4 linked regions of the Homo sapiens genome follow. The protein of the gene in region 1 interacts with the protein of each later gene in a pairwise test. Each region holds a gene or a part of one and is shown on either strand. Other genes may lie near its edges.

Region 1 (7,760 bases):
TTTCTCTATGTTTTAAGGTAACCAACATTTCCTTGATTTAGTAAAAAACCAAACACATGTAAAAGAGTACATCAGAAAATTCTTTTTGTTCAAATTCTCAGTTATTTCAGGTCAACTTTGAATAGATTCCATAAAATAATCATTTGTGGAATACCTTCTCAAGGCAAAGGTATCATGATAGGTGGTATGGGGTTGGATATAAAGATGGAAACTAGACTGTGTATGTCCACAAAGACATTACAACCAAAGAGTGTGAGCCCTTGAATTACCTCAAAACCCCTAGGTCAGATCAGCTAAGCACATAACACAAGTATAGAGAGCCATGAGGGTTAAAGGAAGTTAGAGGAAACAAGAAAAGTTTGAAGGAGAAAACAGAATTTGAAACAACACACACACCTAAATCCCATACACACACAGAAACACAGGCCTAAATCCTAACAATGGGGCTGAACCAAGTGGGAGGAAAGAAGCCAGTACACAAACATGTGCTAGTGAAGTGAGGGAATAGGAAAGGAGGTGTGAGAACTGAGATACTGGGCCGGGCGTGGTGGCTCACGCCTGTAATCCCAGCATTTTGGGAGGCCAAGGCGGGTGGATCATGAGGTCAGGAGATCGAGACCATCCTGGCTCATATGATGAAACCCTGTCTCTACTAAAAATACAGAAAATTAGCCGGGTATGATGGCACGAGCCTGTAGTCCCAGCTACTCGGGAGGCTGAGGCAGGAGAATTGCTTGAACCCGGGAGGCGGAGGTTGCAGTGGGCTGAGATTGTGCCACTGCACTCCAGCCTGGGCGACAGAGTGAGACTCTATCTCAAAAAAACAAAAAACAAAACAAAACAAAAAACAAACCTGAGATACTGTCGCTTGTGCTCTATCGACATTGTAGTTGAACAGTTCGCTTTAAGCAAATGCTGGATTCTTTAAATAACAACTTTTCTGAGAGTCAGATTTAAGTATTTGGTGATGATAAACTATGGTCATGTTATAGCTTTCAGCTAGCCCTCATTTCTATACTTCATTCCAAATTCCAGCCATCTTTGGCATTTAAAGCCAATAAAATTCTCAGATCACAGGAAAGGATTGAGGTTAGGGGCTGTAGTTCAATGACAGACACACAACGTAAGTGTCTGCCATATGCTAAGAACCCCCAAGCTAAAGTATCTCATTTAATCTGAATTACGAGATAGGAAATACTTTGCCATTCATTAAAAAAAAAAAAATCCAATAGCATTTCAAAAAGCAACATTATTATAAATACATATATATGATATGTAGACAGATGGCTAATTACCTCATGATCATGAGTGGCCTGCCGGGCTGCATCTAAAAATATAAAAGAATAAGAGAACATTACATTTAAAAAGAAAGCAATAACAAAACCCAAGTATACGACTCTGCCAAACTATAAAACCTGCTTGTATATGTAGATTCTCATAACATATGATATTTTTCCTTAAGGCTTTATTAATCGGTCAGCCAACAAAAGTAAGGGAACCCCATGCCTACAGAATTCATAATTAGGCATAAGAGAAACAGCAGACACAGTTCTTAACTTTAGGGAGAAAAGGGTGGAAGAGTGGACAGAAGACACAAACCAAAGACTACTTATACAACATCTATAATTTTAGCAGGCTAGATGCCCAAGTATAGAGAAGATGCAATGGCTAAGGAAAAATAGGCTAGTTGTGGATGGTGCTTCAAAAATGACACATGAAAGGCTTAGAAGTGTTAAAGGGAAGTTACTGATATAATTTTGTAGATAGGCTTGCTTACAGGCAGAGAAATGCCTAAACTGGGAATCAGGAAAAGAAGGGCAGGCAACTAACAGGGGTCTCGGAGGACAAGTCAAAATCATTGATAATAGACACGGAAACCCAGTTGAAATTTCTAAATGAGAGCAATGTGATTTTAATAAAATTTCAAGATAATGCTTGTAAGTGAATACTGGATAGTGGAGAAAAAACAGAAACACATCTTTTATAGTTACCACTCTTAACAGTTGGCTTTATGACACTCCATCACCCACAACAAACTACAAATACATTTGGTTCTGGTTTTGATACCTTGCCTATGAGATTTGCCTTTCTGACGGTCCTGGGTTTTCCTACTGAAGACCTTGTAGGCCTCTGTTTTCTGATACTGTTCCAGTTCCTTCATGTAACGCTCCTTATCTCTGTCTGCTTCATCAAGGTAGCGCTAGGAAAGAAATACAGAATTATTTTCAAGAAAATGAGATCCTATTTAAATAAAATTAAATTACCTATTTGAAGAAAACAGGACAATTAGAACATGGGAAGAAAAGAATATAGGGAATATGCCTTAAAAAAGAATCAGAAAAACAAGAGTTGTATGAATAGAATAAAATATAACCTCTCAATTATAAAAGTAAATAGGTCATTATGAGTTTTTAGAATATTTATTGCCTTTTCTAACCTAATGAAGACAAGTTCTATTGAGATCATTCTTATAAAAAATTCATGAAGATGATTAGAGTTATTCTTCTAACTCTATAGATAGAACTCTATATGGCCACTAGAGTCATCCTCATGAGATGTGCACACCACATAGGCACACTTAGTCTTCCCAAGGGAAGGAACAGAATATTACTTTGTTTTGCTGTCTCCAGCCCATTTTGAGGGGATGATGTCATACATCAATTGGCCCTTTAAGAGCCAGGAGGTTGGAGCAATGAAGCTGGGAGACACAAAGAACATAAAAATAATGACCTCATCCTATGGACCTAAAAATGGACTACTCTGAGAGAACCTATATCTACATGCTTTGATTGCTTTGTGCTATTAATTATTTAAACAAAGTTCATTGATCTACCAGGATTATTTTGTTTAATGCTTTGCCCTTTTCATTCATCAAAATGAAGTATAAGAAAGTATAAAAATACTGCTTCTAAATGAACAGAAAACACACTCAGAAATTATGTTAAACACTTTGTCCCGCGTAAGAGCCAGATGTAGGGGATACTCAACTGGCCAAATCTGGTACAATTTAAGCACCAAAATAATTAAGTACAGTAATAAATTATAAACTAGTAGAAAAAACTTCATACTATTATTAGTATGATTTATAACAGACACAATACCAATGATTTGTTACCATACAAATACAATAAATGGGTGTAGAGGCTGAGCGTGGTGGCTCACGCACGTAATCCCAACATTTTGGGAGACCGAGGTGGGTGGATCACTTGAGGTCAGGAGTTCAAGACCACACTGGTCAACATGCTGAAACCCCATCTCTACTAAAAATACAAAAATTAGCTGGGTGTGATGGTGCACGCCTGTAGTCCCAGCTACTTGGGAAGCTGAGGCTAGAGAATCGCTTGAACCTGGGAGGTGGAGGTTGCAATGAGCCGAGAGTGTGCCACCGCACTCCAGTTTGGGCGACAGAGCAAGATTCCATCTCAAAAAACAAACAAACAAACAAACAAACAAATAAATAAATGGGGGTAGGGGGTCGGGCATGGTGGCTCATATCTGTAATCACAGGATGTTGGGAGGCCAAGGCAAGAGGAGGACTGCTTGAGCCCAGATGTTTGAGTCCAGCCTAGGCAACAAAGTGAGATCCCATCTCTACAAAACATAAAATAATTAGCCAGTTTTGGTGGTGTGTGCTACTTAGGAGGCTAAGGTGGGAGGGGTGCTTGAGACCAGGAGGTCAAGGTTGCAGTAAGCCAAGATCTTGCTTAGATTAGAATGCTGAAGGCTACCTGGTAAATGTAAAGGGAGTGCTGGAGTTGGAAAAATCATCACGTTGTAACCATAATGATAAAGATTAAATCAGGCAAAAATAATCAATGGATGCTAAATCTAGGGGAAAATGTTGATGTAAAACAGGCTGTTTGTATGTTCTTAAATCGTCTCCCCATAGATTACTTATTAATGACAAAGGAGAATTTAAATAATGTACCAGGTAAGCAAAATTAACATTACTAGTGAGAAACAAAAGGACATTGTGTGCCTGCATATGTGACATATTGAGAACACACCACCACCTATGCAAGTAATCCCACCAAGAATGCGCAACCTCAATCTAATCACAAGGAAACATCTGAAAAATACACAATGAGCAATGTTCTGTTAAAGGTAAAAGCAGCGGGGGAAGCAGAAGGGAACTGTATTTTAAAAAAATATCAATGTTATAAAAGAAAAAGAAAGATTATGGAAATATCCCAGTTTAAGCTAAAGAAACTTGACTACTAAACACAAAACCTGACCCTAGACTGGAACCTGTTTTGGAAGGGAAAAATGTTATAAAGAAATGACATTCAGTCAACATATAGATGACAGATTAAAGCACTGTTAATGAAAAATTATGAAATTGATGACTACACTATGGTTATATAAGAAAATATTCTTTGACATACACACTGAAATATCCTGGGGGTAAAGGGCTACAATGTATATAATTTATCCTCACATGATTAAAACAAAATTTTGTGTGTGTCTGGGTGTACACATGCAAGTGTGTGTGTGTGTGTGTGTGTGTGTGTGACAGAGAGAGAGAGAGAGAGAGAGAAAGACTGAGCATGCAAAAGTATAAGAAAGACTGAGCATATAAGTGCATATGCAAATGGAGAAATGGAATAAAATGTGTTAACAATAGGTGAATCTGGGTAAAGAGTGTTGGGATGTTCTTTGTATTATTTTTATGTTTGTAACTTTTTGTGTATTTGAAATTATTTCCAAAAAAAGTTAAAAAAACAAAAACAAACACAAAACCTTTGTCCTACGTAATAGTGGTTATCCCAAGAAATAAGCACTGTTATTTTTACATTTTTGTTTATACATTTCTGTATTCTCTGAAAAGAGAATAATGAGCACATATTAATTTTAAAATAAAGAAAAAAAAGAAAAGAATAGCATAGTATGTACAGCCCACTATCCTTTTATACAGTAGCGCCAAAACAATGGATGATATTCACTGCTTTCTACTAGCTTGCTACCACAAACACAGAGCTTCAAAAGTTGCAACTGAATCTGATCTCTTTGAAAATTTCTGAATTCAATTAATTCCCAGGAGAGTATTTCTCCATTTGGTTTTAGTGTGTCTGGAATCCTTTTTAAAAAGTGTAAGTCATAAAAGAGTTTAAGACGTAAAAGAAATACAGATATCTTTCAGATGCTGGGAATGCTGGGAACTTTTAACCCAAAGCAGCTCCCACAACCATGACCACTGCTCAGCTTTAGTGGTACTTCAACCAGCTCATGGCTATCTTGTCCTTAATTCCTTTCAAATCTCTCTAATGAACGGATTCATTTCAGTTTGCCCATCAGGTTAGTTTCTGTCTTAGAGGAGAAAGAATTCAAGTTGTTCTTGCTTTATTTTCAATAGTAGGTTAATTTGCCAGAACTCTAGTTAAAAAAAGTATTAAAGCAGTAACATTTTTTCTTAAAAATCTTATGTGAACTGCAGAATTGTGTCAAGTGACTTTTTCTCATTTAATTCACGACTTTTCATTTAACTCAGTGGAATACATTTTATTGACAGATTTCTTAATACTGAACCACTTAAAACAATCTTATGTGAACTCAGCGTATAAAAAGTGGTGTTGCTTTGGTTGAGGGGAGTCCTAGACTCCTTCCCTGCTCACACCCCTCTAGCAAATAGTTTAAAAATCACTAGGCTAGAGAAAATTGCTATGATGGACCCTGCTATTCTGGTCTCCTAGGCACTGTGACAAAACTGCAGAATCAACTGTCCATCCTCTTTGCTTTTCTTATATAAGTTATTTCTGAGATATAATCAAAACCAAACAAAGAGTCAGGAATAGGAACAATTACCTGTTTTTCCTCAGGAGGCAGTTTACTCCATTCATTGCCTAACATCCTTGTGATTTCTGGAAATGGGACTTCTGGTCTCTTTGCTCGAAGTTGTTCTCGACGCTCATTCATGAACCGAACATATCCTGTAAGGGGGGATTTGGGTGCATTGCTGTCTCGAAGAGGTTTCTTCCTCTTTCTTCCTTTGGACCAACCTCCTCGTTTACTTCGTTGCTACAAAACAAAACAAAATAAAAAACCAAAAACCAAACAACAACCATCTCCCAAAATAACCCAACAACAACAAAAACAAACAACAACAAACAAAACAGGATTAAGAGTTGCAATTTGGCCCTGGATATTCAAAGCTCTCCACATCTGTTGTAGGTAATATACAAATGACAGCAATGCAATTTTTGAGGAACTCCAGATGCTTCACTTGCAACCTCTTTTATGTATCACACTACAAAATGTTACACTAAAGGGCTATTTTTGTGCTAATCTCAATGTATGAGAATAAGAGGTGCCATGATCACTCAGCTTTGACCTTCATATGCATATGACTGTCCCACAGACAACTGTCAGGTCCTGATTCCTGACAGGAGAGTATCCAAATGGGAAATACAGCAGCACATGCAGCATTGTGGCAGGGAGGCAGACATTGTCAGATTAGAGTAAGATGGTGTCACGTGCACCAGGCAAAAGAAGAAACAAGTTGTAGCAGAAATTAAAAATAACTCACAATGGGAGTTGCTCATTGATAACTTTCAAAGACTAGCTTATTTCCCATAGCAGATAGCAGATAGCATAGCATAGCAGATAGATACTAAATTAATATCTAAGTCTCAGAAAAATTTTAGTAAGTATAATATATCTGAAATGAAGACGAGCTCTTTGGCTTGACAATTTGTTCCTTTAGATGTACATTTTATTTTAATTTTTTTTTTGAGGTAGAGTTTTGCTCTTCTTGCCCAGGCTGTAGTGCAATGGCGCTATCTCGGCTCACCGCAACCTCCGCCTCCCAGGTTCAAGTGATTCTCCTGCCTTAGTCTTCCAAGTAGCTGGGATTACAGGCATGTGCCACCACACCCAGCTAATTTTTGTATTTTCAGTAGAGATGGGGTTTTGCCATGTTGATCAGGCTGGTCTCGAACTCCTGACCTCAGGTGATCCACCAGCCTCAGCCTCCCAAAGTGCTGGGATTATAGGCGTGATCCACTGCACCCGGCCTAGATGTACATTTTATAGTCAGAGGTCTTTATATGTTGAGTTACCAGGTAAATCAAAAGATTGAATCACCTCTGAAAAAAACTAAAGAAATGAAAAGGACTGAGGTACCACTGATGTTTCACCACAGCCTTTCTTCTTGGCCCTTTAAATAAGATGTAAGGTACATAATATTTTTACTTCATAATTTTACAAATACAGCCGTATCAGTTAATATTTCATGGATACAAGAATTCTTATTTCAGACAAGAGAAATATAAATAAACAAGGACAAAAATATCTAAATACTAATTGTAGTACTCTACTCCTCCAAATATATATAAAATGGTATAATTCACCACTGGGCAAATTATGTATTTGGTATTAGGTTTTTCTTTTTTTAAACCTAGTTACATTAAAGCTACTGTGGGCTGGCACGGTGGTTCACACCTGTAATCCCAGCACTTTGGAGGGCCAAGGCAGGCGGATCACTTGAGGTCAGAATTTCGAGACCAGCCTGGTCAACACGGAGAAACTCCATCTCCACTGAAAATACAAAATTGCCTGGGCATGATGGCATGTGCCTGTAATCCCAGATACTTGGGAAGCTGGGGCAGGAGAATAGCTTGAACCTGGGAGGCAGAGGTTGCAGTGAGCTGAAATTGTGCCACCGCACTCCAGCCTGAGCAACAGAATAAGACTCCACCTCAAAAAAAAAAAAACAAAAAACAACAGAACAATTTAATTTCAAGGTATTTAAGAAACTTTAAGCA
Region 2 (7,735 bases), on another chromosome or scaffold:
TCCTGGGTTCTACCAGCACTTATCATCCTGTACTAGAAATGTTCTTCTGTCTCCTCCTTCCCTAACCAGACTGTGAGCTCCCTGAGAGCAGATCCTGCCCAATCCATTTCTGGTGCTTGGCCCAGTGCTAAGGAGGTCACATTCAGTTCTGTGATTCTCTTGCCTTTACTATCCTTGACCCCTTTGATGGTTCCCAGGATTCAGGGGTCTGGGTTGTAGTGTGTTGCTGGGAAATAAATCTGAGAGCAGATTCTATAATCCTGTGGCAGTGGGATTCCCTGACTGTGACAGCATCACTCCCAGAATAGAAGAAAGCAAGGTTTTCTTGCCAGAAAAAGAAACACTCTTTTCACACCATCTCTTGAAGAAAATAGAGTATAGGATAAACAGCTCAGGAGAGATGCAGCCTCAGAGGCGACTCCAAACCCAATTCTCCTTCCAAGGAGATTCAGGCTCCCTACTCCTCTCCTTAACATCTACATACCAGACTCTCTGCCCAGCGCTGGGGTCCTGTATGGTTTCCTCATTGCTCAATATAAATCAGGCCCTAGGGTAAAAGCCTGGAAATCCCAGTCCGAGCTCCCAGAGCGGGGACTATCAGAATATTGTTACTATAAAGGTTCTTAACAATCATCTGGTTTCACAGTCCCCATCTCCCTCTACCCCCTCCACCAAAAGGAGGAAAAACTGAGGCCAGGAGAGAGACAGAGTGCTGCTCAAGACCACAAAACGTTTCAGAAGCAGAGCCAAGACTTGAACCCGTGCATTCTTCCTTGCCTAAAGCTTTTTCTCAAACTGCCTCTGTGGAGGTGGGTTGTCATAGCAACAGTTCTTTGGGTGGGAGAACTAAGAAGAAGTTGCCACTGTTTCCCATTCCCACATATCCCAGTCTGGCTTGTTCACTCAACCTTTGAATGGAGGGTAGAGGAAGAAAGCAGGAGGGACGAGGCCTAGAGGCAGGACTGACCTTGGCCTCAAGGGTAGGCCTTCCCCCTTTGTGCAAGGAGAGCTGGGAGAGGAACAATTGAAGGACAGTCCTTAGAGGGCTTGAACCAGTCCTGCCTTCAGTAGCCCGAAGGCAAATCCCTTGCCCCACCCCTTGTCCTTCCTGGGTGCAACCCAGTAGGCAGGGCAGAGCACAAGAAGAGATTAATATTAATAACATCCTGGCCTGAGGAAGGAGAAAAAATAGGATGGGGATCTCTCCTCATTCTGGCCCCAGAAGGCTCCCTCCCTTGTGCCCTTTCTCGGGCAGCCTCAGGCCCCAGGCAAGCTGGGTCAAGAATACAGAGAGACAAAATCAAAAGTTAAATGCAGCCCCTTAAAGTTTACAGATAGTTTCCACCAAGGCAGAGAAGAGAGCCAGAGACTGGGCGTGGCTCTTCCACTGACTCCCTATGTGAGTTCAGAATCTGCAAGCACGTTTTATCTGTAAGATGGGAGAAATGATGACCAGTTTTCTCATTTCAATGACATAAAATGTTCAGACTATCTGGCACAAAGCAGGTCTCAAAGTAAAGATGCAAAGTGCAGTCAGATGATCTGGGTTCAAATCATGGCCCTGCTTTTTGCGTGATGTTGGGCAGTTATTAAACTCCCTGTGCCTCTGTTTTCTTTTCTTTTCTCCTCCCTCCCTCCCTTCCTCCCTTCCTCCCCTTCTTCCCCTTCTTTTTTTGAGACAGGGTCTAGCTCTGAGCTCTGTCACCCAGGCTGGAGTGCAGTGGTGCGATTTCAGCTCACTGCAACCTCCTCTTCCTGGGCTCAAGTGATCCTCCTGCCTCTGCCTCCAGAGTAGCTAGGACTACAGGCACACACCACAACACCCATCTAATTTTTGTATTTTTTGTAGAGACAGGGTCTTGCTTTGTTGCCCAGGCTGGTCTCAAACTCCTGGGCTCAAGCGATCTGCCTGCCTCGGCCTCCCAAAGTGCTGGGATTACAGGCGTGAGCCACCATGCCCACCCTGTGCCTCAGTTTCTCCATCTATAAAATATCACTTAACAGGGTTACTGTGGAGATGAAGAGAGCATCATGTAAAGTGCTCAGCAAGCTGCCTGGCACATGCACTGGGTGAAAGTTTTCAAAGCAAGTAGACAGTCTAGATAGGCTCTTACTAGGCCTTGAGCTAAAGTTTGTACAGTGAGGCAAAGGCAAGCCCCCGCTTAGGTGGGTACAGTCACAGCCTTGCTCTGGAGAATTGGGCACTCACCTCCAACCTTCAAGGCCAAGTGCACACTTGGCATTCAAGTCCTTCTCCCAGGGGGCCTTTCCTGACTGCTCCACCCACCAGACTCTCTTCCCAGCCTCTCAGCTCAGGCGTCGGAGCCCTGGCTGGTCTCAGAGCCCCCATGATTTCCTTCCCCTTCTCCTTCACAGACCAGCTTGGCACAGGCTGGGCACACAGGAAGACTTTAGCTGACGTACTCACTGTGGGCTCCTGGTTGTGAGCCAGGAAGCCGATGGCAATTCCTCAGTTCCCCAGAACTGGCTGCAAAGTAGTGGCAGGTGTAAATCACCCACTTCACCGGAATCAGGGCCCTGGGGAACCTGCCAGGGCCTCGGCTGCCCTTTTGGCTCTGAATCTAGACCAGCAGCAATAGAGAAAGGGGAGGGTTGCTGTTTCCTCTTCTCCCCAAGAATGTACAGATGAGATCCAAATATCCAGTTTACCTGGAAGACTGGCTGGGAGGAGACTGAGTCTGAGGCGAGGGAATCAGCACCAGTGGTGCTGCTACTCTCTGTCCCTGCTATGGGTCTAGGAACTTTCCATTATTTTAAGTAGGGCTGGGGGATGTAGAGGAAACGGAGAAGGTTTTCAGTGCCCCTGGTCCAGGTAGTTTTCAGCAGATAGGCCCCTTTACCCACTTCTTTTCTGTGCGGAACACTGCGGCCTCACAGGAACTTAAACCCTTTCCCGGTTAGCAGAAGGAGAAAAAACCGGTTGCCTTACAACGGGGACTGGCGGGGAATAGGTGGCCCATACAGGCGGGGGGAATTTGTGCTGCGTTGGGTTCTCAGTACTTCCCAGTCCTCATCTCTCTCCTCCCAATTATTTGGCAGGAATAACTTCCAAAACCCACTGCTCCCAACCCAAGTCCTCAGGACCATCAACACCCCACTCACTCTTGGGGGACAAGTAATGGACGTCACTCCATCTCCACCCCAGCGTTTACGGATTGATCTGGGAGGGATTCTGAGCAGTTAGGTGGAGAGTTTTAACTACCTCCTCTCCAGCTTAACTCTGGGAGCATGAGTTCGTCCCTCCCGGCCCTACACTAGGGACTCGTCCCCTTGGCCCATGGATTCAGCACTCACCAGCTCCATCTTCAGCGCCATGATCTTGTCCCCCAAGTCGTGGCCGGTGCTAGACGCCCCTGGGAGCAGCAGGGCGCCAGAGGTTCCCAGCTCACACTCGCCTCGCAGCCCGCGGAGCAGCCCTTCAGGGGTCTTCCTGCCCACCTTACCCTCCACATCCCGCAGGTCAGGCGTCTGGGACTCCACGGTCCCCTCCATGCGGGCCCAAGCCTGAAAAGGGCTGGGCGACCGGACGCCGGGGACCGGCTCCCGGGGGTCCTCCCTTCGCCGCTGCTAAAGCGGAGCAAAACCGGTGGGTCCCCGCCCGCGCGGCGCGGGGGCGGGAGGAGGGCGCCGTAACACTCAGAAAAGCCGCGCAGCACCGTCTGTGGATGTATTCGAGTGCTGCGCACACAACCTCTGGCCCTGGATTGCGTGGGGCTGGGCGATTCTGGAGTTGGACCTGAAAGAGCACTCGGAGACCTCAGCGCCTTCGCCCCACCCTGGCACTGAATCCAGCCAGGCACACAGCAGGCGCCCAATACATGTTTGCAGAATGAAGTCTAAGCAGCTTCAGTCAGAGATGTGGGAGTTTAAGGAACAGCGGTAACAGAGAGCTGCAGAGGGCTTGGAAGTCTTCCTGGAGCAGAGGAATTGGGTATAAAACGATGACTGGATTTTAGCTAGACACACACACACACACACACACACACACACACACACACCACCCCCCCCCCCCAGGGGCTAGAATTCAGGCTAACGGAGTAGAAAAGGGCAACCAGTACTGAAGCTGAAGAGGTCCACGTTGGGCTTACAAGCAAGATGCTCCTTAAGCTTGACTGTGCGTATGAATTATCTGCGGATCTTGTTAAAATGTAGGTTCTGATTTTGTAAATCTGGGGTGGGGCTTGAGATCCTGCATTTTTTTTTTTTTTTTTTTTTTTTTTTTGAGACAGAGTCTCGCTCTGTCGCCCAGGATGTAGCGTGGTGGCGCGATCTTGGCTCACTACAAACCTCTGCCTCCCTGGGTTCAAGCAATTCTCCTGCCTCTGCCTCCTGAGTAGCTGGGATTACAGGCATGCGCCACCATGCCCAGCTAATATTTTTGTATTTTTAGTAGAGACAGGGTTTCACCATGTTGGCCAGGCTGGTCTTGAACTCCTGACTTCAAGTGATCCGCCTGCCTTGGCCTCCCAAAGTGCTGGGATTACAGGTGTGAGCCACTGCGCCCAGCCAAGATCCTGCATTTCTAATAAGCTCCCAGGTGATGGCCATGCTGCTGGTCCACACTTCAAGTAATAAGGGACCACACTTTGAGTAACAAGGTTACAGAAAATGGTTCTGAGATGTTTGGGTTTTATTTAACAGGTAATGAACAGCCATGAAAACTCTGGTTTGTTTAGGCTTTTAATTCAAGTAATTCCAGCCCATGGTTGCAGAAGGATTTACAATGAGAAGATAGTTACCCCTACCCTACCCTTTCACACCTCTAGGCCCACTCCCAATTGGCAAAAAATAACTTTTAGTTTTTTTTTTTCTTTTGGTGTTCATACCCATAACGTTATTGTTTAGAGTTAACTAAAAGTGGTTGCCAATTGGGAGTGGGCCTAGAGGTGTGAAAGGGTAGGGTAGGAGTAACTATCCTCTTATTGTAAATCCTACCACTATTTTTTCTTTTTTAGAGACAGGGTCTTCCTACATTGCCCAGGCTGGACTCAAACTCCTGGGCTCAAGCAATCCTCCTGCCTCCCAAGCAGCTGTGACTACAGGAGTATGCCACCATGCCCAGCCACACTACTTCTCAATTTTAAACATTCATCTGCTGTTTATTGTCCTATTCAGATAAATATGGATATATGGGTTTAACTCACACTCTGTAGTTCCTTTCCCCCATTGGCAATATATATTTCTTTTCTTTTCTTTCTTTTTTCTTTTTTTTTTTTTTTTTGAGATGGAGTCTCACTCTGTCGCCCAGGCTGGAGTGCAGTGGCACGATCTTGACTCACTGCAACCTGCCCTCCTGGGTTCAAGCGATTCTCCTGCCTCAGCCTCCTGAGTAGCTGGGATTACAGGCACGTGCCACCATGCCCGACTAATTTTTGTATTTTTAGTAGAGACGGGGGTTTCACCATGTTGGTCAGGCTGGTCTCGAACTCTTGACCTCGTGATCTGCCTGCCTCAGCCTCCCAAAGTGCTGGGATTACAGGTGTGAGCCACTGCGCCCGGCCTGGCACTACATATTTCTATCACTCTTTTTAGTTCATCTAAGGTTACCTTTGTAATTAACTTTTTTTAAAATTTAGATAGAGTCTCGCTATGTTGCCCAGGCTGGTCTCGAACTCCTGGCCTCAAGCAATCCTCCCACCTTAGCCTCCCAAAGTGCTGGGATTACAGGCATGAGCCACCATGCCTGGCCTACCTTTATAATTTTAAGTAACATCATTTTCCTTGGTACTTTTTGATCCATGGAAGGGTTTTAAGTTAGAGATAGACAAAACATTTGTCTTTTTTTTTTGAGACAGAGTCCGGCTCTGTTGCCCAGGCTGGAGTGCAGTGGCACCATCTTGGCTCATTGCAACTTCTGCCTCCCAGGTTCAAGCCATTCTCCTGCCTCAGCCTCCTGAGTAACTGGAATTACAGGCACCTGCCACAACACCCAGCTAATTCTTGTATTTTTAGTAGAGACGGGGTTTCACCATGTTGGCCAGGCGGATCCATCCGCCTCAGGTGATCCACCCGCCTTGGCCTCCCAAAGTGCCGGGATTACAGGCATGAGCCACCGAACCCGGCAACATTTGCCTTAAAGAAAATCACTCTGGATTTTGCAAGGAGAAAAGGATAGGAGGAGTAAAAATCTAGAGTCAAGGAGACTGGCTGGAAAGCAAGAAACTGAAATGGCCTGCACTGGGGCTGATTGTGAGGTCAAAGAAGAATTAGACTAGAATGGAAGGCTCTTTAGGAGGTAAGACTGACAGGACTAGGTGACTGGTTACATTCATTTATAGTGGCATTCAATAAAAATTTGTTAAAAAATACAAATGAATGATTTCAACAAATGTTACGGAGAGCTTACTATGTGCCAGCCTTTGTGTGTGGTGTAGAGAATACAATGGTGAGCAAGACATACCTGGACTGGTCACTGGAGACAGACAAGGAGTCAAGGGTGACTCCCAGCTGTTTGGCCTGGTGCAGTTCACTGAGGAGGGGAACCCACAGGAAATCTAGGAGTGAAAGGAAATGATTCCAGAAGTTGTGCTGTTGCGTTAGAGGGGCCTGTGAAGATGTCCTGCTGGACATCAGGCAGCCTGGAGCTCAGGAAAGAGGTTAGAACTGCCAATGTCAGTTTGGGCATCTAGATTGGTAACAGAGGTCATGAGAGAATGAGATCATCCATGAAGAGTCAGTTTGAGGAGAAAAGAGGGTCAGGAAGGAACCCTGAGGGACATCTTTTAATTATTTATTTTTATTTTTTTATTTTTTGAGACGGAGTCTTGCTCTGTCACTCAGGCTGGAGTGCAGTGGTGCAATCTCAACTGCAACTTCTGTCTCCCAGGTTCAAGCGATTCTCCTGCTTCAGCCTCCTGAGTAGCTACGATTATAGGCGCCTGTCACCACGCCCAGCTAACTTTTGTATTTTTAGTAGAGACGGGGTTTCACCGCGTTGGGCAGGCTGGTCTCAAACTCCTGACCTCAACTGACCACCCCACCTCGGCCTCCCAACCTGCTGGGATTACGTGAGTCATGGTGCCCAGCCGGGACATCTTTTCAAATGTAATAAAATGTGTTGGGTTTTCTTCCATTCTTATACATACTTACTAGGAAAAATCATGTATTTCTTTAACTCCTAAGACAAGTACTGTTAACATTTCATTTTGGGGGATATTACCCCACCATTCAGGAAGCAGATGGAATACAGAAAGCTCAAAAAAATCTAACTGGTCTTCTGGCTTCCTCTGTCTGCTTCCAACCCATTCTCCACAAAAAAAGTAAAGGTTCTCTTAAAACAGAAATTGGATTATATTGCTCCCCTGCCTAAAACTGTTCTATGGCTATCCACTTCAAACAAGCATCAACATCACCTAGAAACTTCTCAGGAATGCAAAATCCCACCCTGCCCCAGACCACTGAATCTAAAACTCTAGGGATGGGGCCCAGCACCTCTGTTTTAAGAAGTCATCCAGGTGATTCTGACGCAAGCTAAAGTTTGAGAACCATTGTGTTAAGCTAACTGCTTTCTATGTATGATGTTATTTAAACCTGGCAATTCTTATGTATTGTTGCCAGCAGAGTGCAGTGGTTAAGAGCAGAATCTGGAGCTAGGCTGAGTTTCAATTCCACCTCTCCTAGCTTTGTGATATTAGGTCTTATTTCTTTATCTGCGACAGGGATAGTAATAGCGCCTATAGCCAGCACGGTGGCTCACTGCCCATAATCCCAGCAC
Region 3 (7,478 bases), on another chromosome or scaffold:
AAAAATAATTTACATACAATGCTAAACACAGCTGCCTTAAACAGATTTGTGAATAAACACAGCTGACTTTTGGTGAACTTAAGCAGGGTGAAGGAAAAAAGCAAACTGGCACACAAGGAAGTGGCAGACTTTTGGTGTGTGGCCTCAGCAGCACCAGCCTCAGTTTTACAGAAGGAATGAGTAGGTTAATCCATCAAATTGGCCAAGCGGTAGTCAAAAATGCTTTTGGAGCCATCACATTTAATATACACAAAAAACAGACACATATGAACATATATATGTATGCATACAATATTATTCTACTTTAATTTTGCCATGGGTTTTTATTGTTGTCATTTTAAAAATCAGGAGTGGATTTAACTTTATTAAATGTCTTTCTGGCATCTATTAAAAATATTCTGATTTTTCTCTTTTGACCTATGAATATGATAAAGGATACTGCATTAAAAAGAACTGGAAGGCCGGGTATGGTGGCTCATGCCTGTGCCTGTAATCCCAGCACTTTGGGATGCTGAGGCGGACAGACTGCTTGAATCTGCCAGGAGTTTGAGACTAGCCTGGACATGGCAAAACCCCATCTCTACAAAAAAATACAAAAATTAGCTGGGATGTGGTGGTGCATGCTTCTGGTCCCACTTACTTGGGAGGCTGAGGTGGGAGGATGGCTTGAGCCCAAGAGGCAAAGGTTGCAGTGAGCCGAGATTGTGCCACTGCACTCCAGCCTGGGTGACAGAGTGAGACCCTGTCTCAAAAAGAAGAAGAAAAAAAGAATAAATTTCACCTGGTCATGATGCACTTTTAATGTTTTTTTAATCAATATTTTATTTAAACATTTGTATTCATTGGTGAGGTTATAAAGCTTTCTCTTTTTAAAACTGTATTTTCTCGGGCCGGGCGCAGTGGCTAACGCCTGTAATCCCAGCACTTTGGGAGGCCGAGGCGGGTGGAATATGAGGTCAGGAGATTGAGACCATCCTGGCTAACACGGTGAAACCCCGTCTCTGCTAAATACATGGCGAGCGCCTGTAGTCCCAGCTACTCAGGAGGCTGAGGCAGGAGAATGGCATGAACCCAGGAGGCGGAGCTTGCAGTGAGCAGAGATCGAGCCACTGCACTCCAGCCTGGGGGACAGAGCGAGACTGTCTCAAAAAAAAAAAAAAAAATTGTATTTTCTCCAACCCGCAGAACAGTTGTCTTTCTCTTGCTTAAAAAAATTTCTTATTCAGTTATACCTCTGGCTCTACTCCATTGTTTTAGAGCCCTTACATTAATATTGCATAAATGCATGTATTTGCATAAAAAGCTACTTCTACTTAACATGATCCCATTATAAAAATAAATTATTTCCAAAGTTGGTTCAGTCCGATGCTTTGCTATTTTTAATACAGCTATCAGGAAAATCAATATTAGCGTTTTAGGGGTTTCTAACTAAAAGTAAGGAATCCTATTTCAAAGACCTTACGTAGGCATGAAGCAGTGAAGGAAGAGACCAGATGTAATTTTACATGTGTATCCTCTCTCCTTCCACAAATTCTATAGCAATTTCTTAGAAAAAAATGCTGATTTGAATACATGAAAGAAGCTTAAAACAAGAGGAACTAAAGTCACTTCTTCAATATAAGTTTGAATATCTTCAAAATAACTACTATTTGAGTATGAACAAGAAACTTTCGAAAGAAGCTCTTAAAATATTCAAACATCTGGCTGCATGTGGTGGCTCATGTAATCCCAGCACTTTAGGAGGCCAAAGCGGGAGGATGGCTTGATCCTAGGAGTTTGAGACCAGCCTCAGCAACATAGTGAGACCATGTCTCTACAAGGGAAAAAAAAAAAAAAAAAAAAAATAGCCAGGTGTGGTAGTGCACACCTGTAGTTCCCGCTGCTTGAGAGGCTGAAGCGGGAGGATCACTTGAGCCCAGGATTGAGGTTGCAGTGAGCTGTGATTATGCCACTGTACTCCAGCCTGAGCAACAAAGACCCTATCTCAAAAACAAAATGAAACAAAAATACCTGAAACATTTTATTCAAGTATATTTGCTGTTGTTTATCACTTACACAAAGGAGAAATAACCAGTCTTTCTCTCTTAAAGTACATCTAAATTCATTAAGCTGGCAGCCTTTTAAAAAGATGCTTCACTAGGTTTCGTTTGTTGTTTTAATGGATTGCAAGTAAAACTGTTTTTATAGACTATTGATTTCTAGCTCCAAATGAAAACAGTAAATCACACAAAGGTTTTATTTTTGTTGTGGCTGATGAACTATAAAAGGGAAGAAGGGAGTGCTGACAGAGACTGGGGCATTCTTTTCAGCCCTCACACTTGGCTTTCTTGGAAGCTGGAAGACAATCTTCATCTCCTTCTGATGGCCGAGGTTTCTTCACTGTAGAGATAATTCCAAAAGCAGTTTTTCTAGTTTCTGTAAAACAAACAGGGAAACCACTGTGCTTGAAGTTAAGACATAATTTAAAATGAGGTGGTTTAACATATTACTTTGGCTTACAGCAATAGCAAATGATAAGCCATAATGAACTGCTATGGCTGCTAGTGCCATTTACCGTCATTATCTTTTTTTCCCAACAGACACAAATATCAGTATATTATTAACATCTAATTCATTCCTAAAGATTACCTCATGGGTAAAACTGCAGGACAGTGTTATCTCTAATGGTCTGTCCATGGCATCTTATGTAGCCAGAACCCAGTCACAGACATTGATGTAGCAGACACTTTATATATGGTAGACAGACAAATCAAGAGAGCAAACACAGCAATCAAGTGTATGGCTCCCATGTGGAGCACATGCTTGCCTCATTTTACAGCATGTACCCTATCTCTCTTATTAGAACATCAAGGTACCTCTGAAGAATCAATTGCATTATATTGCCAACACTCAACAATGGCCTGGTTATGCAAAATGTGTTCAGTAAATACTAGTTGAGTTAATGAATAAAATCACTCATAAATTTATTGATCTCTTTAACTGGTGACAATGAACAAAGAATAAATAGAAATTATTAAATGCTTAGATTAGGCTGGCAGCAGAGTTCAACTTAAATTTAACCAATTTTTCCTAGAAACCTACTAATAGGCTAGGCACTGTGTCCATACAGAGGGTATTAAGATTCCTAACAGACAGTGCTTTTCCCTATACTACATGCATGCGAGAAGCACAATAAGAGCAAATATAATAGGAATGGAGGCATCCACAAGAATTAACTGCCTGGTTAAAGCAATGAGGTATTATATAAAGGTGACACTACTCAGAATAGGGTAAACGGAGTAAGAAAAAGAGAAATATTCCTTTACAAAGGCATGGAGAGAAAGATAAGAAGAACCTAGGTAAAATAGTTTAGGGGACAATATGGCTGATGTGAAGTAGGAATACAAAAAAATTAGGAGAAAATAGAGTTTGGAAGGGTAACTTATGAAAGGCCATAGTGTCATGAAAACAGACCCAAACTCTGTCCTTAGAAATGGAAAGGGATTATGGAGAAAGAGAGAGATACCCATTAGCTACAAAGGTGGCAGAATCAAAAGAACTTGAACAGAAATTTAGCTATGAATTATTCCTTATTTCAAGTAATAAACGTAAAGTCAACCATAAAGTGTTAAGCATTATTTTCCCATTTATCAAGATTAACTTAGTAAATCTACTCTGCCAATTATTTTAAAACACTTTTATTTGTAAAAGGGATAAAACTGCTCTCAAGGTCATTAAAATGCCAACATAATAAGAACCTCAAAATAAAAACTGTCAATGATTTCCATTTCACCAAATGAAAAACGTCACACTTATAGCTATTAATTTATGTCACTGATTCTGTACCCATAGTCTAAAAATCAACTGAAATATAAACATTATGAAAATCAGCACTTTTTAACAAAATGCATTAATTTCTTTAGTGTCTTTTAAAAATAAATGCATTTCTTGGTAACAGCAAGACGTTACATTTGTGTATGCTTTAGTTTATAAAATGTTTTCACATATAGTATTTCCTTTAATCATCTTGCCAAGGAAAATCTAAAGGATTATCTACGAGTGAATAATTTTGTTCACAAGGGGCTAAGGCAGGTGTCCCCAACAGGTTCATTTTGGTCCAGGGGCTGATTGAGGGCATGAACTTTATCAATCACAGGCCAAAGACCCTGACCTTGGGCCTCTTTCCTCTGTCCTTTCCCCACAACCTCCTCAGAATTGCTATTCATTGGTTTCTAGATTTCTGGACCCCCAAAGAACCTAATTCTGATTTCCTGTGGCAAGCCTTCCAAGTTGAAAGCTAACTACCATGTGTCCCAACTCTTCTGCTTGCCAGGTATCCATGTCTGCACCACCCTCGTGATTCCTCTCATCATGAGGCTTCCAGACCCTTTAAGGACTGAGTAGACATTTTCCAATAGTGTTTCAGTGCACTGCTGTCCTTCTTAAATGTGGCACTCAGAATGATACAGATGCCGGCTGAGATTTCATCAATGAGAGTATAATAACGAGGCTTTGAATTTCCTTGTCTCAGAATCCTTTATTTCTTCTAATATTACCTAGGCTGAATTAGCAATCTTAAGAACACATCATACTACCGTCTCATACTGATCCCAATGGCAACGAAAACCAGGGTAACCATATTTTATCATCTAGTTTAGGACTCTCTTCAGGGAATAGAAGTGCTAATAAGGTCACAGAAACAGCAGGCATAAACTAGAACTGTCCTGGGTACACTGGGGTGAATGGTAATGCCACCCAAAGTTCACAAGTCTTCTTTAAGTTTAGCTTCTATAAAAGCCTGATTTTAGACACAGAAAGACAAACATCACATGTTCTCACTTGTTTGTGGGATCTAAAAATCAAAGCAACTGAACTCCTGGAGACAGAAAGTAGAAGGATGGTTACCAGAGGCTGGGAAGGGTAGTGGGGGGCTGAGAGGGAGGTGAAGATGGTTAATGGGTACAAAAAAAATAGAATGAACAAGGTCTAGTATATGATAGCACAAGAGGGTGACCATAGTCAATACAATTTAATTGTATATTTAAAAATAACTAAAAAAGCATAATTGGATTGTTTATAACACAAGACATATGCTTGAGGGGATGGACACCCCATTTTCCATGATGTAATTATTATGCATTGCATGCCTATATCAAAATATCTCAGTACCCCATAAATATATACACATACTATGTACCCACAAAAAGAAATTCTAAAAAAAAATACTTTACATATTATGTGTTATATGCTGAATAGCTGAGTTCTTAAAGTCAAATGCAGGACTTCCTATTTTCCTATATATAAAATTATGTATGTATTTATATTTTAGTTTCTGTTTCTTGTTTAGTCCATTTTGGAACCCCAACTGTTACTCAAAATCCTGATGAATGTTTATTTAAAATAGATCAAAATAATGACAGAACTATCAAAGTGTGAACCAACTGTTCCCTAATTTCAAGAAAATCATTATTCAAAATCTCCATTAATTTGACCACTCCCAAAGCTTATGTGATGAGTTCTAGGCTACATAATACAAAAATCTCAAACTAAAAATGTTGAAACTAAAAGCAAAATCATCTAATTTACGGCAAGCCAATACATAAGCAGTTCTCTCAAGTGGAAATCAGATCAATAAAGCCCAACACACAAGCCCTCAATAACCTAGCTATTCATATGACAAATAACTCAGTCTATATGTAGCAATCTACTTTGAAGTTTAAAATTCACTTGGGTGATATCAATGAAATTGCTTCTTAACCACTACAACTAGTCCTAAGAATTATAAAGATAACGAAGACAAAACAGTGATCAAAAGCTTAAATTGTTTTAATAAAATTTCACTTTCATTTTCCAAAGTTTCAGCATACTTTCAATTTTTAACATCTGATGAGCAGGAAACTCAGTCAGTGAAAAGGTACATATACAAAATGTGAGTAAAAAATGTACAGTCTGGCCGGGCATGGTGGCTCATGTCTGTAATCCTAGCACTTTGGGAGGCTGAGGTAGGAGGATTGCTTGAGCCCAGGAGTTCAAGACCAGCCTGGGCAACATAGTGAGACTCTGTCTCTATTTAGAAAAAGAAAAAAAAATAAAAAAGGTACAGTCTGGACACAACTTGACCATGTAAGCAAACATGAGAAAAGAAACATTCTGAGTTATAATAAATGTAAAAGTTACAGTCTATGTTTTGTTAGTTGGATTTTTAAAAATGTATTTGCTGGTTTTGTTTTCCTAATAAATAGTTTAACACATATTTTTAACATATCCGTTCTCTAAAACAGAGATTTTCAACAGGGAAAGCATGGCCTTCTGGTGAGGGAGAAGAAGGAAGGGAGATTAGAAGCCTATCAAAATGTCGGCAGGAGCACACATGTATAGCTGGAAGAACTATTCAATACTTATTTCTGTAATGAAAACTATATTCATTCTACAAACTTTAGAAAGTAAAGCCTGAAGTGAGGGTGAGAAAACACTGATGACTGTGTTTAGAACAGGTTGAGAAAAGATGATCCCAAAGGAACTCTGTAGGGTAGGGCAATAAAAATAGGTATGGCTGTAAAAATGACTTGCTTTTAACATGACCATTCAGTTTGTACTGGAAGAACTTGCTTACCTCCATGGAGAAGCGCTGCTCGGCAGTTGGTGGACACCGCAGCCTTGGCGTCACTTTCAGAGAGCCCAAACAGCAAGCCTCTTGGGGGAGCATTAAAGATTTCAACCCAGAGTCACCCAAGGACACGAGACTAACACAAACATAACAGAAAGTGCCAGCTAACCTGGTCATCTTGAGAGGCTAATTAATTCAACAGCAGTTCTTAGTCCAACTGGAACATGCATCTGAGAAAAGACTCATTTAACTCTAAGCTTTTATCATATGAAGTCCCTCATTCCCTCTTTTCTATCTCATGATTAATTAAAAAACAGAAGCATAAAGCTCTCTATAATGTTATATAATTTATTTTTGAAGTTATTAATTGGTAAACTTACAGTAAAAGGTTGAGAAAAATACATGTTCAACTATAATACGACTTCAAATTCAAAATTTCCTGAAAGACAATGTCAACAACTTTTTACTCAGAAAAGGATACAGATTTGCCACGTCATATGGCCCTCTTATTTCTAAAGGCTGAAATAAAATGAACAAAGAGTAGATATGAGAAAATTATTTATAACATTTCAATGACTTATAGCAAATTAATAGAAAATTTAAGTATCCAAAAATAAAAAAATTACATAAATTTAAGTCCTTATAATTTTGATGGGTTTCATAGCTTTTGAAAATATAAGAGAAGCTTGAAAGGCATTTTGTAACAGTATAAAAGAAAAACTGATTATATAAACAAAAGTTGAAGCCTAAAGAAAGTGGGGATAAATTTTACTATTTAGCAATTACAATGAGCAAATGCAGTTAAAATAGAAAAAAATGCAACAAATATTCATTTACTATTTTAATTTATCCCCTAGAAACTGAAAAGTTTTATAACCTGAAAGATGAAAAC
Region 4 (7,912 bases), on another chromosome or scaffold:
GCATAGTCACAAAAGGAACCAGGGATAATAATGTAGCCTTGGGATGAATTGCAAGATTCAAAACTAGGAAAGCACTCGCCCTTTACCTGAGGGTTACCCCCATTCCATACAGCTGAGTGGTAGAAGGAGAAAGCACATACCTGCTTCTTGACATTGTCGATTTCAGATCTAAGTCTCTGGATCACACGATTCAGCTCAGAAATTTCTATCTTTGAATTTCTCACACTATCCCCATGTCTGCCAGCAGTGATCTGCAGCTCTTCATACTAAAGATGGTAGATAGCGTTTGTTAAATGTAGGCAGAACTCAGCATGGCACAGGCACACATACATGAGATAACACAGGATAGCAAGACAAGCCATTTCAGGGAAACTGGCTAGGCTTTCAGCCCACTCACCTTGCTCTGGTACAAGGACTCGGCCTCAGCTTTGCTCTTCTGGGCTATATCCTCGTACTGGGCCTTGACCTCAGCAATGATGCTGTCCAGGTCGAGACTGCGGTTGTTGTCCATAGAGAGGATGACATTAGTTTCACTGATTTGAGTCTGCATCTGAGACAACTCCTGCAAGACATAATAGGTTAGTGACTCTTACAGCACTAAAACAAAAAACAACTTAGACAGAGAAAGCAGTCAGAAAATAAAAGATAAATATCTATTCTTCTGAATCGTTGTGGGTTCAGGCTTAAAAACTCTCCATTTAGATAAACTTGGTTGAAACTGGAAGACTTACTGCTTGGTAGAGTGCTGTAAGGAAATCAATTTCCTGCTGCAAGTTGTCAAGTTTGGCCTGAAGGTCCACCTTGGTCATATAAGCACCATCCACATCCTAGAGGAACAAGGGACATCATGAAGGCACATTCTCTCCAGGGCAGGTCCCTCTCATTACCTGTGAGGGGATTCTCCAAGCAAAAAAAGGAGCTTTGGGTCTACTCCACTCCTTTTTGCCCCAGGTAAATCACAGTTCCCTAACTGTCCCACCCCCGGATAGCACCATCAAGGGAGTGTGCCTGGCTTGCTGAGAATCTGCCACTCCACTTACTATGTAAGGTGCTGGGAAATATGGAGAAGCCAAGTGCCTGGATCAGTCCAGGTCCATGATGATGTGAAAATATAGCCCCACTCCATATACTCCCCAGGTCTACTACCTGGCTCTCCATATCATGGCTGCTTTCTGCTTAGTAATTGGAGACCCTCTTCCCTTATTTATTTCAAATGTGAGTTCCGTCCTACAGAATTTGCTTACCTTCTTGATGGTCACAAATTCATTCTCTGCATTTGTCCGCTTGTTGATTTCATCCTCATACCTGCAGGAAAGCAGAAACAATTAGGAGATTCAGAGGTGGTAAGACCTGAAGTCCAGCATTCTAAACTAAAGGTGGCATTGCCTATCACTGCCTTTCTATTATGAACCTAGGACATATTGGCCACTACTTTCTACTGAGCAATAAAACCACTAGACTATTTCCATCTCCTGAGAAAATGAAGATTTCTGAAAATGTCAAACTGATGTGCCTCTAACCTAAGAAAAGACATAGCTACATGCTGCTTCATGATCTTAGCTTATTACTTTCTGGAACTCTTTTACAGCAAAAGTTAAGAACTGCCCAGACAGGGTCCCTTACTTGTTCCGGTAATCCTCCACCATGTCCTGCATGTTCTTCAGTTCCGAATCCAACCGAGATTGATCACTCTTCAGTTGGTCCACTCTCCTTCGGAGATTGTTGATGAATGACTCAAAGTAGGGCTCTAAATTATGGGTTCTAGTGGAGGTATCTACCTGCTGCAGCAGCTCCCATTTTGTTTGCAGTACCTGGTTCTGCTGCTCCAGGAACCTCACCTAAAAACACAAGACCCCTTTACTCCTGATGCATAAATGGAGTCTCATAGCCATGGAGAACTGTGCCTCATTTGGAAAAGAACCTCAATTCCTATCTTCTGACCATGACAGAGAAATAGGAAGAAGATGATCAAGTTAATATCATCTGCATAATAAAACCCAACTTGTTAATTCAGAGAGGGCTTGGAAGGGAGTAACTAAACAAATACCAATAGCAAAGCGCATACAGAATTATTGCAATTATGTTTTGAAATAGGTGCATGGTATTTAAGAGATTTGCCTTCCAAAATTTTGTTAGGTATATTACCATAAAAACTGGTTTGCATCCCCAGGACACACACACATTTCAAAAGTATATCAGGAAAATTCAAAATTGGATTTGAAATTTGTTGTGGATAACCTTGGATTGGCACTATTAATGATTAAGCAAAAAATTAAAAAAATGGTTTATCTGAGTTTTTTAGAGCTGATTTTTGGAGATATTAGTATAAAAAAACTCTAGCCTCATCCAGTACCAATGTAAAATTATTAGAAGGCAGAGCTCCCCTCTGACAGCAAAAGATGTTTGGCACTGACTGACCACATGTTTTCTGCTACAATAACACTCTATACTATGTTCACACTCAACTCCCTTTCTATGGTTAGGAAGACCTTTCCAGGGTTCTCACTTGCACCCTGGAAAGTTCAGTTAGCCCCATTTCTATTATCTTCATTCAACAGATATGAGTCCCAATTCCGCTCAAGAGCTGAATAAAAAGCACTTAAATGTTAATGTCACACTGACCCACCTTTAGGTCGACCACGAACCCTTTGTCAAAGAGAGAGTCATTAACACCATTCACAAGCATACATCTAACATATCTCCTAGGAGACCATTCCACAAAACATCCTTTTAATCATGTAAACATGGAAACTTGAGGTTCAAACCTACTGTGTTTTGACTGCACCAATCCCAAGTGGACCAGCGGCAGCCCTACCAGTGCAATGAGAGAGAAACTCACCTTGTCAATGAAGGAGGCAAATTGGTTGTTGAGTGACTTGATTTGCTCCCTTTCTCGAGACTTCACCTTTTGGATCTCAGGGTCAATCTCCACATTGAGGGGCTGAAGAAGGCTCTGGTTGATAGTGACTTCTTGTATGCCACCAGGAGGGCAGACAGGACCATAACCACCCCCATATCCACCACCCCCAAAGCCACCTCCACCAAAACCACCACCACCACTGCCAAAACCACCAAAGCCACCACCCCCAATGCCACCTCCACCAAAGCCACCACCACCAAAGCCACCACCACCAAAGCCACCACCACCATAACCACCACCAAAGCCACTACCACGTCCACCTCCTCTAGCCACACTTATGGAGATGCTTTTACTGCCACCAAGGTTAACAAGACTCCGACTTCCAAATCCACCACCAGCACCAAAGCTACCACCACCACCACCACAGCTTGAAAATCTCCCACCACCTCCTCCACTGCGGCGTGTGGAGCTGCTGGTGGTCCTGCGCTGGTAGTTGATGATCCCAGCAGAGCCAGAGCTGAAGCCCCCTCCACTTCGGTACCCAGACCTGGAACTAAACTGTCGACTCATGTTGACTTAGAGAAAAGTAGGAGCAAGGTAGAGTAAGGGAAGGAGCTAAACACTCCTCTACCCCAAGCATAGAGACTTCCCCTTATATACAGGGAAGAAATTGGGCTTGGTCTTCTAGAGTCAGCGGAGATGCAGTGCCTGTCAAGGGTTTGGCTTGCCTGCAGCCATACAAGATTTTTACGAGCCTCAACAATACGATAAACACTACACACCTAGCTCCCAGGATGGGCTCTCAAAATTGCTGTGCATGCAAGATTGGTTCATGTGGTAATTATTTTATCACACAAGATCTTCCTTCAAGCATTTGTGGCTTTGGGAAAACAGGACCCCACATCTGATACCTGGTGTTTCTTGGTAGGATTTCATAACCCCCATCAAAAAGGCATGAAAGTTTCTATTCTCACCTTGCCTTTGTGAGCTACCAAGCACACTCTCTTACCATGCACAGCAGGTGCAATTCCCCGTGCTTGGATCTCAGAAGGAGCTCTCTGGCCCATTTCTAAGATCTTCTTTCCAAACTCCAGAGCTCACTCAGTTACAACCTGACAAAGAGAAAGGGCTTTAATAACTAAAAAATTAAAAGGTCTTTCATAAATATAAGCTTTATAAATATACCACAGTGATTAATTAAAGGAAGAGAAGCTGTCATTGAACAAGATGGATGAGTGGGTGGTCTGGAAGAACCAGAAGGGAGAGACATTTTTTTTCTCTGTTTCTCAGTTATTCCTTTTCTTGTTTCTTTTCTTCAAAGATAGAGCAGGAGACAGACACCAGCAATAGAAAACAGGTAGCAATGGATAGCATGCAAACGCCCTTGAGTGAAAAAGCCCACAGAGCAGTGAGACGAGTAAATAGAAGCTCTAGGACATTTTGTAAAGCACAGGGGTGGAGGTGAGGCTTGATAGGTGATTCAAGCCTCACACTGGACTGCAAAGAGAGAGAGATAAATGCAGATTTGGAAGGGAAGACAATGAGAGGTGTCTGGAGAGCCTTATATGAGAAGTTTAAATTGTTTCTGGAGGTGATAATAATGATAATACCTAACATGTATCAAAAACTGACCATGTACCAGGCACTGTTCTACGTAGCACATATGTATTAACTTGCTTAATTTTCACAACTTTGAGATAGATGCTATTTTTCTCCCCATTTGTAAAATGAGGAAGCAGAGACACAGGGGTTGAATAACGTGATCAAGTCTACACAGTTGGTAAGTGGGGTGCCTGCGATTTGAAGCAAGAATACCTAGCTATCATGTGCAAGATCCTAAACAGCATGTTGTACGACAGCACAGCAGCCGAATTCAAGTCATTCTGCCTGCTGTGTGTAAAGCCAGACAGCACAGGAAGCGCCCCACCACAGAGAGCTCTGAGGGCAGAAGGCCTGTTTTATCACTCTGAGTCCTTGGCTCCTGGCACATGCAAGTCTTGGAAAATGTTTCTTCAATTCACACTGAGAAGGAGATTTTGGTGGCACAGAGTTTAGTGAGGAGATTTTACTTCCATCCAAGTGCAAGAGTACCCAGCATGCATTGCAATGGACCAGGAAACCTCAGGGGTCTTCCTGGAGAGCAGCACTTGATCAATATCAGTGGATAATAGTGGCACTGAGATCTGGACACACTAGAAGCCCAAGCAGACTTTCATTCGAAGACTTCTTAGAAGCCTGGCATGGTCCCCGGGCCTGCACATAAACACAGAATTGAAGACTCAAAGGGGAGAAGCCAGCTCTAACTTCAGCTGGCTCCAAGTAACTCTGTAAGTGGCAAACCATAGATGTACATGGGAAGTCTCCACTATGGTGTGCAAGATCTATGGGAGAAAGGGAGTCTGTGAAGATCATCTGGTCCCATTACTCTGTGGCTCTGAATCGGGCTGGCTGTGTCGGTCCTCTCCATTGCACTCCGCTATTGAACCTTGTCCCTCTTCTCCTCCCAGTTTTTGCCCTATACCCTCCTCCAGAAAGTGCCCCTCACCGCTCCCCTGCTACTCCTCTCCCTCGCCATCACTGTGGCACTGCTGTCTGGGACTCTGTCCTAGCACTAAAATCCTTCGGCTGCTAAACCAACCATCTCTTTAGGGAATGAGTAATTCAGGTCTTGTTAGGAACAATGGAGACTGGGACAGTCTTGGCATGGTAATGACTGTTGCCTAATCATTTTCTGACAAGCAATCAAAATTATTTTAGTTCAGCATACTCCCTCATGAGACATATTGTTCTGCACAATCGATTCCTTCTAGCATTTTGGAGGGGTGTGAGTATGTGTGTGCACACATGTTTGTGTGCACACATGTTTGTGTGCATGTGTGTGCCAGCCAAAAACAGACCTTGGCAGTGATCCACACTCCCATCTTTGAACTAAGAAACTGACATACAGAAAAATCAAAGGTTTGAATGAATGGTCAGGGAATTGGTAGACAACTTAGCTGCAAAACATACCCCAGGTGCTCCTGTGAGAAGGGAGAAATGCAGGACTAGCAGGAATAAGTGCCATAAACCTCACCATAGCTTACATTTGCACAGCTCACCCCACCAAACACATATGCAAAGAGCATCCCACAAGAGCCCTGAGAACTAGGCAATCAAGCTGTTCTCAACCCATTTCATGAAACAGAAAACTGATTCTCAGAGATTAAGTGGCTTCCTCTAGACACTCCGGCTAGGAAAAGACACATCTGGAAGCAGAATCTGGGTTTTCTGATTTCAATTCAAGTGACATTCCTCCCTGAACCGGGAAGAGGCTCAAAGACAGGCAAGTGGAACTGGGCCCTATAAACAAGTACACAGAGAATTACAGAATGTTCTCATCCATGGGGCCTCAAAGGTCACATCATCTAACCTGCCTCACAGAGAAGTGAGAGCACAGGCCCAAAAAAGTAAAAAAAAAAAAAAAAAAAAAAAAAAGTGTCCAAGTCATAAGTCAATTCCTGAGACTCTTCCAATTGTTGAATCAAACTCCTTTTCTTTTTCCACTGCCCACTTTCGAGGCAGCCCAACAGAGCTGGAGCTGCAGTGCTGCCAGACCAGGCCCGTCATCTCCTGTGATGTCCCCAGGATCAGTGTGGGTGTGTGGGATATGAAGAACCACATGCAGGAAAGGTGTGAGCCACACACTCTCTCCTGGCTTACTTATGTACTGTGCATTTATGAAATAAAGACAAAATGAGAAAGAAAGAGACACTAACATCTACAGGCAGCAACTATGCTGTTAGGAGCCACATTGCATTTAAATACCACACAAAGTCTGCGTCGTGGGAGCTCTTAGCCCCATTTTAAAGAAAAGGCATCTTAGGTTTATAGAGGTTGAAATATGTGCCCAAAGTCATCCAGCAGGTAACTGACAAGCCACGCTTGCCTCACTCCAGAGTCCAAGCCCGCCGCATCACATGGGCTCCTTCTGTCATTGGCCTGCTCTCACCACCAGCACCACCTACATCTTACCCTGCTCACCCACTCCCCCGGCCTCACGCCTTGACCCCTTCACTCTCGTGCTTTGCCCAGACTGATCAACCCTCTTCTTCCCTTTCCATCCCTGTTCCTCTCTGTCTTCCAAGCCCACTTCTACTCTTCTCTTTTCTGAAAGGTCTTCTGGTTGCCTCGGCAACTTGCCACAAATCCCTACCCATAGTCAAGCTCTGGGGCACCAAAGATCTCAATTCCTGAGCATTTGGTCCTGAATCTGTTTTTGGTCCATCAGGGCTTGTGGGCAAATGCCTTCATCTCTCGCTCAAGCAGGCAGCAGACAGGTCCAGATCTCATCTCCTCCAGGGAGTTTTCCTCAGTCCACATCGGGCAAGTGCTCTATTGGTCTCTTTTTCCAAGCTCGGCTGCTGCCAGACTTAGTACATATTGATGCATTTGTTGGCTCATTTTCATGCATGTGCTTGTGTGTTTCCTGGCCCCTCAATCACTCTGGAAGCCTTTGGAAAGCAAGACTAAGTCCCCTGTGTCTTTTGATGTCCTCCCAGCATCCCACATGGCCCCTTATACTTGAGAGTTACCCCAGCGGTGCTGGATGACAGAGCACCAAAACACCCCCACCCAAGGACTCACACACACAACCCAGAACTGATCATTGAGATGAGGCTGCCAGGGGCTGGCTGTGGGGCATGGGCAGGAGCAGGTGTGGTGATGTTTTGAGAGCTTTTGTGGGATGGGACCAAGAAAAGAGTGAAGAAAGACATGCAGTGACAAGCCACCCAGCCCTGAGGGACTCCACCAGGGACATGGGACAGGGAAATCCCAGGGGAGTGAGGAAAATTGAGGCCTGGGTGGAGTGAAGAGAAATCACAGACAATGGGGAGGCGGGGCGAGATGTTGAAAGCAGCCAGGCAGCAGAGGAGGGGCCAAGGCTTCTTATGCAGGAGGGAGAGCTGCAGACAGAGGGGCAGCCCTATTTAGGATGGACAGCAAAGAAGGAGGTCCTCAGGAGTCACTCACTAGCAAGGCTGGAGCAGAGCAGAGGCCAGGAAGGAGGAAACC

Evidence for each region.
Region 2: the proteins of HMG20A (region 1) and LURAP1 interact in binary tests that used the Homo sapiens proteins (3 or more experiments, as listed by UniProt).
Region 3: the proteins of HMG20A (region 1) and RPP30 interact in binary tests that used the Homo sapiens proteins (3 or more experiments, as listed by UniProt).
Region 4: the proteins of HMG20A (region 1) and KRT1 interact in binary tests that used the Homo sapiens proteins (3 or more experiments, as listed by UniProt).

What each region holds. Positions count from the first base shown.
Region 1 is NC_000015.10:77,465,350-77,473,109, reverse strand, and holds part of HMG20A (high mobility group protein 20A), read right to left. Parts: intron 6,016-7,760; coding exon 5,803-6,015; intron 2,201-5,802; coding exon 2,068-2,200; intron 1,328-2,067; coding exon 1,296-1,327; intron 1-1,295. UniProt on the Homo sapiens protein: Plays a role in neuronal differentiation as chromatin-associated protein. Acts as inhibitor of HMG20B. Overcomes the repressive effects of the neuronal silencer REST and induces the activation of neuronal-specific genes.
Region 2 is NC_000001.11:46,199,205-46,206,939, reverse strand, and holds the start of LURAP1 (leucine rich adaptor protein 1), read right to left. Parts: upstream 3,607-7,735; 5' UTR 3,514-3,606; coding exon 3,316-3,513; intron 1-3,315. UniProt on the Homo sapiens protein: Acts as an activator of the canonical NF-kappa-B pathway and drive the production of pro-inflammatory cytokines. Promotes the antigen (Ag)-presenting and priming function of dendritic cells via the canonical NF-kappa-B pathway.
Region 3 is NC_000010.11:90,895,507-90,902,984, reverse strand, and holds the end of RPP30 (ribonuclease P protein subunit p30), read right to left. Parts: intron 7,106-7,478; coding exon 7,068-7,105; intron 6,673-7,067; coding exon 6,593-6,672; intron 2,416-6,592; coding exon 2,306-2,415; 3' UTR 794-2,305; downstream 1-793. UniProt on the Homo sapiens protein: Component of ribonuclease P, a ribonucleoprotein complex that generates mature tRNA molecules by cleaving their 5'-ends. Also a component of the MRP ribonuclease complex, which cleaves pre-rRNA sequences.
Region 4 is NC_000012.12:52,676,919-52,684,830, forward strand, and holds the start of KRT1 (keratin, type II cytoskeletal 1), read right to left. Parts: upstream 3,490-7,912; 5' UTR 3,431-3,489; coding exon 2,840-3,430; intron 1,839-2,839; coding exon 1,624-1,838; intron 1,306-1,623; coding exon 1,245-1,305; intron 828-1,244; coding exon 732-827; intron 563-731; coding exon 398-562; intron 267-397; coding exon 141-266; intron 1-140. UniProt on the Homo sapiens protein: May regulate the activity of kinases such as PKC and SRC via binding to integrin beta-1 (ITB1) and the receptor of activated protein C kinase 1 (RACK1). In complex with C1QBP is a high affinity receptor for kininogen-1/HMWK.